Regions from separate parts of the Homo sapiens genome. Here regions 2 and 3 are each linked to region 1. The links come from fine-mapping of genetic effects on gene expression. A gene starts in region 1. Each other region holds a variant in brackets. All regions are shown on one strand. Distances are from middle to middle. Region 1 holds the start of NAIP (NLR family apoptosis inhibitory protein). Region 2 overlaps BDP1 (BDP1 general transcription factor IIIB subunit). Region 3 overlaps LINC02197 (long intergenic non-protein coding RNA 2197).

Region 1 (2,770 bases):
TGTTTGAAAACAGTATTATTTTGAAACTCAAAATTCCAAATCCTCTCTTCAAATTAGGTAGTAGTGTCACTGGAAGTAAAAGAGAAGTTACTTTAACTGCTAAAGAGTATCCACTAAGAATCTACATCAAACATCATGTTTAATGCTCAAACTTTAGAAGAATTTATACCAAAAGTCAAGAATAAGATAGGATATCTATCTTCATTATTAAGCAACATTATATTAGAGGACCTAATCAATGCAACAAGGCAATAAATAAAAGACAAAACTGTCATAATCAGATACTACAAACATCTAAGAAAATTCAGGGGGATTTACAGTCATATATTAAACAGTCCAGAAGGAGTCCTATACATCATCAATGAATATTGAGAATAAAAAATAGTTTTTAAAACCCCTCCAATTTATAAGGGCAACAAAATGTACAAGGTACTAAAATAAATGTAATGTGTATTTGGGTATAAATACAGCAACATAATGAAAAGGTTTATTGGGGAAAAAATTACAGGGAGAAGGGTCAACAACGTGAAGAGGTTCCCCTGCCATCTGGACTTCTGGAAAAAGACCTGCTGGTCTAGGCACAGCTGGATGCACCATGGAAAGTGGTTCCAATAAACACTGGCACTGTAACAATTGTGTATGTTGATACAAAAAGAGGGAGCCAATGAATACTTGGTCGATTATTTAACAATTGCTTCTCTGCTGAAGAAATGGCCTTGTTGGACTAGAGCTTAACTGTGGTTCACATACTAATGCTGCTATAACAGCTAGAAGCCTTACTAAGAAATTTGCTAAACCACCAAAAAGAGGAAATGAACCTTCTAGGATATCTGGATTGCCTTTTCTTAAAAATCTAGTCTTGGCTGGGTGCTGTGGTTCACGCCTGTAATCCCAGCATTTGGTGAGGCCGAAGTGGGCGGATCACGAGGTCAAGAGATCGAGACCATCCTGGTCAACATGGTGAAACCCTGTCTCTACTGAAAATACAAAAATTAGCTGGGCGAGGTGGCATGTGCCTGTAGTCCCAGCTGCTGGGGAGGCTGAGGAAGGAGAATCACTTGAACCCAGGAGGCTGGGTTTGCAGTGAGCTGAGATCACGCCATTGCACTCCAGCCTGGCAACAGAGCAAGACTCAGTCTAAAAAAAAAAAAAATATATCTAGTCTGTATGGCAGCACAACATCAGGTAAAAGTACAGACTAGCCAGATCACTGGTTAACCTTAACCCCTATGTGCTTGAGTTTCCTTATCTGTAATATGGAGATGATATAGCAATAGCTGATTTTGGACTGTTAAAGGAATTAAGTGGACACATGTAAAGTGCTTAGAATTGTGCCTGGCAAGTAGTAGGCTGCAATATTGTGATATAATAAATATATATATTTGATCTTCATCCAGTTCCTGGCACAGATCTCCAGAAACCCTTGTAATTTCCTGAGTGACAGGGGTGATAGAAACATCTTTTATTAGAATACTTGGTCTTGGTTCCTGACACAAGAGCTTCTAAGACCTTTGGAATCTCCAAGTGATAAGAGTGTATGACAGTGAGCTAACTGGTGGCTGGGATCCTTTAGACAACTTCAGGATGGGGGCTATCCCCTGAAAGACTAAGGCATGATTAGAGGTCTGGGATTTGCAGCCCCACGCCTCGACCTCCAGAGAGGGTAAAAGGGCTGGAGATTGATTAACCACCAGTTGCCAGTGATTTAACCAATCATGCCTAAGTGATGGCACCTCCATTAAAAAATAAACCACAGGTTTGGAGAGCTTTCGGTTTGGTTAACCCCAACCACATACCAAGAAGGCGATGCACCTCAAACTGCATGAAGACAAAAGGTCCTGTGCTCACCTGGGACCCTTCTGGACGTTGCCCTGTGTACCTCTTCGACTGCCTGTTCATCTGTATCCTTTATAATAAAGCAGTAAACATAAGTAAAGTTTCTGAGTTCTGTGAGCCATTATAAGAAACGATCGAACCTGGGATTTTCCTTTCGGAAGCCGCTCTCTCTCACAAGGGAGAGAGCTGTTCTCCTTTTTCTTTTGCGTGTTAAACCTCCGCTCCTAAACCCACTCTTCGTGTGTATCGTGTCCTTAACCTTGTTGGTGCGAGACGACGAACCCCGGGTATTGACCCCAGACAACAATGCCACTTCATATTGGGGACTTCGTCTGGGATTCCAAGGTGCATTCATTGCAAAGGTGAGTAAAGGGGCGGACCTCAACTCTGTCCTTTGATTTCGAGGCTCTTGGCCTCCATTTTAGAATCAAACCAAACCAAATACTGGGCCCCCTTCTGCTTCTGTGAATGAGAAAACTCTGCCTTCACCAATTAGCCATTTAAAAATTATGAGCGTGGCTGCCAGCCTTACAAGTTTTGGGGGACAGGCTTGCTGGGGAGAACATGGAGAACCCCCCAATACCCACGGGCTGCTGGGCATATTGGCCATGTTTGAACCAGTTTCCTTTCACGGAGGACCAAGCTGTCGTGTGGGGCTGGAAGAGGTCCTGGAGCAACTGAGGATTTCTGGCTGGGGCTACCTCCTGGTGCCATCCGAAGGCTTCTGGACTGACCCCAGCCTCCGGCCACCCTAAGGGGTGTCGGCAACAGGACCTCCAACTTTCCTATCATAATTCCCTCATTTCCTATCCACGACCACCATGTCTCCTAACCTCTCTCTGTATGCAGTACTGAGGGAGTTTTACAGTTCAGGGAAGTAATCTTGTTAGGCAAGAACAAAGACTGCTGTAGTAACCAGGGATATAGCACAGGG
Region 2 (2,770 bases), 530 kb before region 1:
GGAGATCAAGACCATCCTGGCTAATACGGTGAAATCCTGTCTCTACTAAAAATACAAAAAATTAGCTGGGCGTGGTGGCAGGTGCCTGTAGTCCCAGCTACTAGGGAGGCTGAGGCAGGAGAATGGTGTGAGCCCAGGAGGCAGAACTTGCAGTGAGCCGAGATCGCACCACTGCACTCCAGCCTGGGTGACAGAGCGAGACACCGTCTCAAAAAAAAAAAAAAAAAAAAAAAAAAATTAGCTTGGCATAGTGGCGCATGCCTGTAGTCCCAGCTAGTTAGGAGGCTGAGGTGGGAGGATTGCTTGAGCCTGGGAGGTGGAGGCTGCAGTGAGCTGTGATTGTGCCACTGCACTCCAGCCTAGGTAACAGAGTGAGAACCTGTCTTGGCGGGGCGGGGGAGAAAAAAAGCCATTACATTCAGCTAACTCCTAAAGTGTAGTTATTGAGCTTACATAGAAAATCCTTGTAGCCACATAGTCTTCAACTGATGACAGGATGAAAAGACCTTCTTTTGCCTACCAAACTGCCAAATCCAAGGCCTTTGCAGGAAAGAAGTGCTGATAATACAAGTATTACTCTTGGAGAAAAGGAATACTCAGTTTCAATCTCATATTTGAACAAGGTATATCCCAAATAATCAGGAGTATTTAGCAAAATGCAATCATGTTAAAATGTATTTCACTTACCTGTTTCCTCAAAAACATTTGTTAATTCCTTTGAGTGCACCTATTTTAAGAAAATTTAAAAAAAAATTTAGAAATTTATCAAGTAAAACTGAAATTAATTTTATTTCCTTTTTTTCTTTAAGTAAAGAAACTATGTTATCTCCCAAAAAGCTCTTAGAGGAATTCTACTAAACATTTATGGCAAAAATATTGCTACTATTTTAAAATGTTCCAGAGCCCACTGGAAGAGAGAAAGCTGCTAACTGCCTTTTATAATCAGTCTCAATATCAGTGCAAAAGTATCAAAGAAATAGTACAAGCAGCACATCAAAAGACTACTACATCACAATCAAGTAGAGCTCGTTTCAGGAATGCAAAGATGATCTGACACTATGAAATCTAATATAAACCAACAGACCTGAGGAGAAAAATCATCTGTATTTATAGAAAAGGTACCCAATGATATTCATTCTTGAAAAAAACTTATAAAATGGAACAGATATTTTCTTAACACTATAAAATATAACTATTGCAATCTAGAAGCTAGCATCCCACATAATAAACACTGGAAGTTCTCCTATTAAAATCGGAAATTAAAAAAAAAGATGTGCACTATTTGGATCACTTTTTAATATTATTTTTTAGTTATATTAGCCACTATAATTACAAAAAAATTAGAACTACAAAAAGTAGAAGAATTAAAATTATATTTGCAGATGGTATGTCTGTTTACCTACAAAACCCAAGAGAACCAACTGAAAAATTACTGCATACAATGAGGGAACTCAGTAAGCTCTCTAAATAGAAAAGAACTTAATGATAACAGCAACAAAAAAGATAAAACTCATAGGGGTAACCTATAAGAAATGTGTAAGATTTATATGAAGAAGAGTTTAACACAAAATAGA[AAGAC/C]ACAAAACAAGACTTAAACAAATGGAAAGACATACCATGTTTTTGAATAGGAAGATTCAATATTATAATTATGCTGTCAATTTCCCCTAAGTTAATCTAAGTTAATATGATTCAAATACAAATACCAATAGAACTCTTTTTTAAAGAGCTAAACAAGTTAATTCTAAAATTCATATTAATTTGAGAACATATAAGTAATGAGGAGAAACTTGAAAAAAGAAGAAAATTGTATGGGTTTGGGAGAGATACTGTCCCTATAAGATACCAAAGTGCATCATAAAGCTACAAAAATTCGGCCGGGCGTGGTGGCCCACACCTGTAATATCCCATCACTTTGCAAGGCCGAGGCAGGCGGATCATCTGAGGTCCGGAGTTCGAGACCAGCCTAACCAACATGGAGAAACCCCGTCTCTACTAAAATTACAAAATTAGCTGGGCGTGGTGGCGGCTGCCTGTAATCCCAGCTACTCGGGAGGCTGAGGCAGGAGAATCACTTGAATCTGGGAGGTGGAGGTTGCAGTGAGCTGAGATCACGCTATTGCACTCCAGCCTGGGCAATAGGAGAGAAACTCCATCTCAAAAAAAAAAAAAAGAATAAAGAAAACTACAAAAATTCAAACAGTATGATGATACTGGCCCCAGAACAAATAGGTGAATCAACATAAAAGAAAAGGAAGTTTTAGGAATATATCCAAACAAATATGAAGATTTACTGTCTTACTGATAAAAGCAGAATTTCCTATCAGTGGAAATAAGATGAATTATTCAGTAAACGGTAAAAGTCATATGAGGAAAATTAACTTGGCCCTATTCCTTACACCAAATCAAATTCGCAACAAATCAGTAATATTAACATTAACTAGGAAATTTAAGTCTCAAAGGACTTTCAATGTATAACATAATCTCCAGAAGCCATACACAAAAAGACTGATAAATCTGATTATGGAAAATAAAAAATGTCTTCTATCTGAATACAGTGTATGTGTATCCTACAATTTTGTACAGGCTGAGCATCCCAAAGCTGAAAATCCGAAATGCTCCAAAATTCTAAACTTTTTGAGTGCTGACATGACACTCAAAGGAAATGCTCATTGAAGCATTTCAGATTTTGGCTTTTCAGGTTTGGGATGTGGAACTGTTAAGTATAATACAAATGTAAGTATAATGCAATTATTCTAAAATTCAAAAAAAT
Region 3 (2,770 bases), 350 kb before region 1:
CACCAAAATCATATTTTGGTAAAGTGTGTATTGCATAACCCAGGCACATTTTCATGCTAGAAAAATGTTTAAATGATATGCATTGCTTTGTATGCTGGAAAGATAGGCGATCATTATGGATCTATTGCAAGGCACTGAATTGGAATATATTCAGATTGAATTTCTGAGCTGTGTTGTGCATCAGAAATTTCTATATTCTCATCTCAATATTTAGACCTTCTCTTTCTCTACTCATCTGTGAAGATGATAATTCACTCCTTCATCAGTGCTCTATTTTGTACCTTCGATGTCCCTACTGTATGTCTGTCTCGAAACTATTGATTCAACAAAGTACTTTCTGCCACAGTTTATACCATTTTGGAGATGAGATACTTAACTGAATGTTCTCTTGTTCATTTAGCCACTGCTCACCGTTAACCTTGCTTTCTTCCTTTCTATATACCCATATTTCTACCTAAATGGGTTAAAAAATTGATATATTGTGTGTTTATTCTTTGGAAGAGTTAACAATTAAGATTGTAGACAAAAGCATCACAATGGGAAAAACTGCCTTATAGTTTTATTTGTGGAGAGTCAATATGAATTTGTCAAGGACCTATCAGGATCAATGTGGCAACCTAGCTCACCATCACTTTTGTGATATTTCAGTAAATAATTAAGAATCTCTTTCATGAACGAGCTGACAAATGTACTGGAAAGAACAAAGGCCTCATAAAAAGGTATCATGTGATAGAATCCTAGATCCCCCTCATTGCTAGCAGCTATACGGACTTTGATAAATATTGATAGTTTATATATTGTACACGCACACATACACAGATACATATACACAATTAGTTTCACATAATTGCATATATGTGATTTTACCACAAATGGCCGTAGCTATTTTCTCACACAATGCAACTGTCTTGACGTGGAGTTGAAGAAAACTGGATTCAAGTTTCTATGTTCCCAGAATCTCCCACCTTTTCCAAAAAGCAATTTAATTTCTGAAAACCTTAGTGTCTTCTTCTGCAAAATAATGAGAAATGCTTGTGCTTGAGTCCAACTCTAGGATTGTAGTCCCCTTTATATAATATAATCAAGTTCCTCCATCTGGGCATTCAGTTAAATTCTACAACATTGCCAAAATCTGATTTGACTCTACAGAATATGTATAGTTTATTTAACCAGATAGTAATTTAAAATTTTACAACATGCGTATTTCATGTAATATTAATAACAGTAATTTAAATTAATATTCAATACATACCGTTTGAATTTTTATAAGGT[A/TA]ATATTTGTTTTTAATTTTTTATTTTAATTTGTAATAAGCTCAAAATTATTACGTCAAAATGTGGAAAGATTGCCATTTTTGGTTTATAACAGATAGTAAGAAATGCTTATAAAATTCTTACCAGTTAATCTAAGCAGGTAGAGGACCAGTATTAGTTAAACTTGGATATAGGAAAGATGCCTCCACATAATGAATAAAACACACTGCACATTTTTATCCCAATTTTCTTTTTACTTTTAGTGCAAAATCTTAATTAAAATTTTGACTATGAGGCATTGACCAAGAGGCCAAAAATAATCAAAAGAGTTCAAATCTATGTGTCTTTATTGTACTTGAAGACAAAATTGTAACTAACACTGTTATGATTAGTAGTACATTAATTAAAATGGTTTAAGCTGGCAGTAATATAAATCAATGATCCTTTTCAAGTATTAGTTGGATAAAATTAACATTAACTCAATTCTGCTTATTTCCTGGAAGTATTTTAAACTTTAACCAATAGATATGACTTTTAAAATTTACCGTTTTTCAAATCTTAGAAGCTAATTATATTTCTAAACAGTTAGTGGATAAATTAAGAAAAGAACAACTTATATTTCTAGGGAAAATTATTTTCTAAAATTTGCACTTACTTGAGTAGATAAAAGGACTGACTTTCAGAGATCACAATCACAGATTTATGTTTTGGTAGAAGTGGTCTGAGAATACTGGTAAAAATATACAGATGTTAGAGTATAACAGAATGAATAATCAGTACGTCAATAAACATTCTGAGAATCTGCAGTTTACTGGTTGACTGCACTCTCCTTGACAAAGGTCTTTTTTTTTTTTTTAAGTGACAGTATGACTTGTCATTTATTTCAATGAAAATTTAAATGTTTCTTACAAATCCTCTGAAAATAAAACCGATATTTTTACAAACAGAAGTATATGCAAACAGTCACAATATGCATTAGGACACTGACGCTATTTCTTACATGCCAAGTCGTTCTTCCATTCTGGAGAACACCTCTTATCTGAAAGATTTTTTTTCTTCTACTATAAATTTGAATCTAAGTTATTTTTAAAGAGTCAAAAACAGTGCAGAGCATTTTTGAACTGATAAACAAGAATATAGGCTGGACTCAGTGGTGCACGCCTGTAATCCCAGCACTTTGGGAAGCCAAGGCAGGTGGATCACAGGGTCAGGAGTTCCAGACCAACTTGACCAAGATGGTGAAACCTTGCCTCTACTAAAAATACAAAAACCAGCCAGGCATGGTGGTGGGCACCTGTAATCCCAGCTATTCATGAGGCTGAGGCAGGGAATTGCTTGAACCCGGGAGGCAGAGGTTTCAGTGAGCCGAGATCGTGCCATTGCACTCCAGCCTGGGCAACAGAGTGAGACTCCATCTCAAAAAAAAAAAAAAAAAGAATATTATACATTTGTATTATAGTTCCACTCCAAATACGATAGCTAAAAGACAAATCAACCTTCTCTTTACAGAACACAGGCTC

The links. PIP is the estimated chance that this variant, and not a neighbour inherited with it, causes the effect. A credible set is the group of variants that fine-mapping cannot tell apart.
Region 2: its variant is the best candidate, but not a certain one, in a credible set for the expression of NAIP in whole blood (TOPMed, PIP 0.61).
Region 3: its variant is the best candidate, but not a certain one, in a credible set for the expression of NAIP in whole blood (TOPMed, PIP 0.58).

Annotation. Positions count from the first base shown.
Region 1 is chr5:71,023,746-71,026,515 of GRCh38, reverse strand. It overlaps NAIP (NLR family apoptosis inhibitory protein), which reads left to right and starts at 1,177. Exons shown (of 17, transcript NM_004536.3): 1 at 1,177-1,901; 2 at 2,110-2,198. RefSeq lists cis regulatory regions at 1-1,048, 1,414-1,627 and promoters at 1,049-1,413, 818-2,770.
Region 2 is chr5:71,554,843-71,557,612 of GRCh38, reverse strand. BDP1 (BDP1 general transcription factor IIIB subunit) reads right to left here. Exons shown (of 39, transcript NM_018429.3): 36 at 688-727. Among named protein-coding and RNA genes, the nearest start is that of MCCC2, 31 kb to the left of the region's middle. The variant AAGAC/C (reference allele first, on the strand shown) is at 1,575.
Region 3 is chr5:71,376,716-71,379,485 of GRCh38, reverse strand. All of the region lies in intron 2 of LINC02197 (long intergenic non-protein coding RNA 2197), which reads left to right. LOC105379025 (a long non-coding RNA gene) reads left to right here and starts at 2,653. Exons shown (of 2, transcript XR_001742723.2): 1 at 2,653-2,770. It also overlaps the pseudogene PMCHL2. The variant A/TA (reference allele first, on the strand shown) is at 1,273.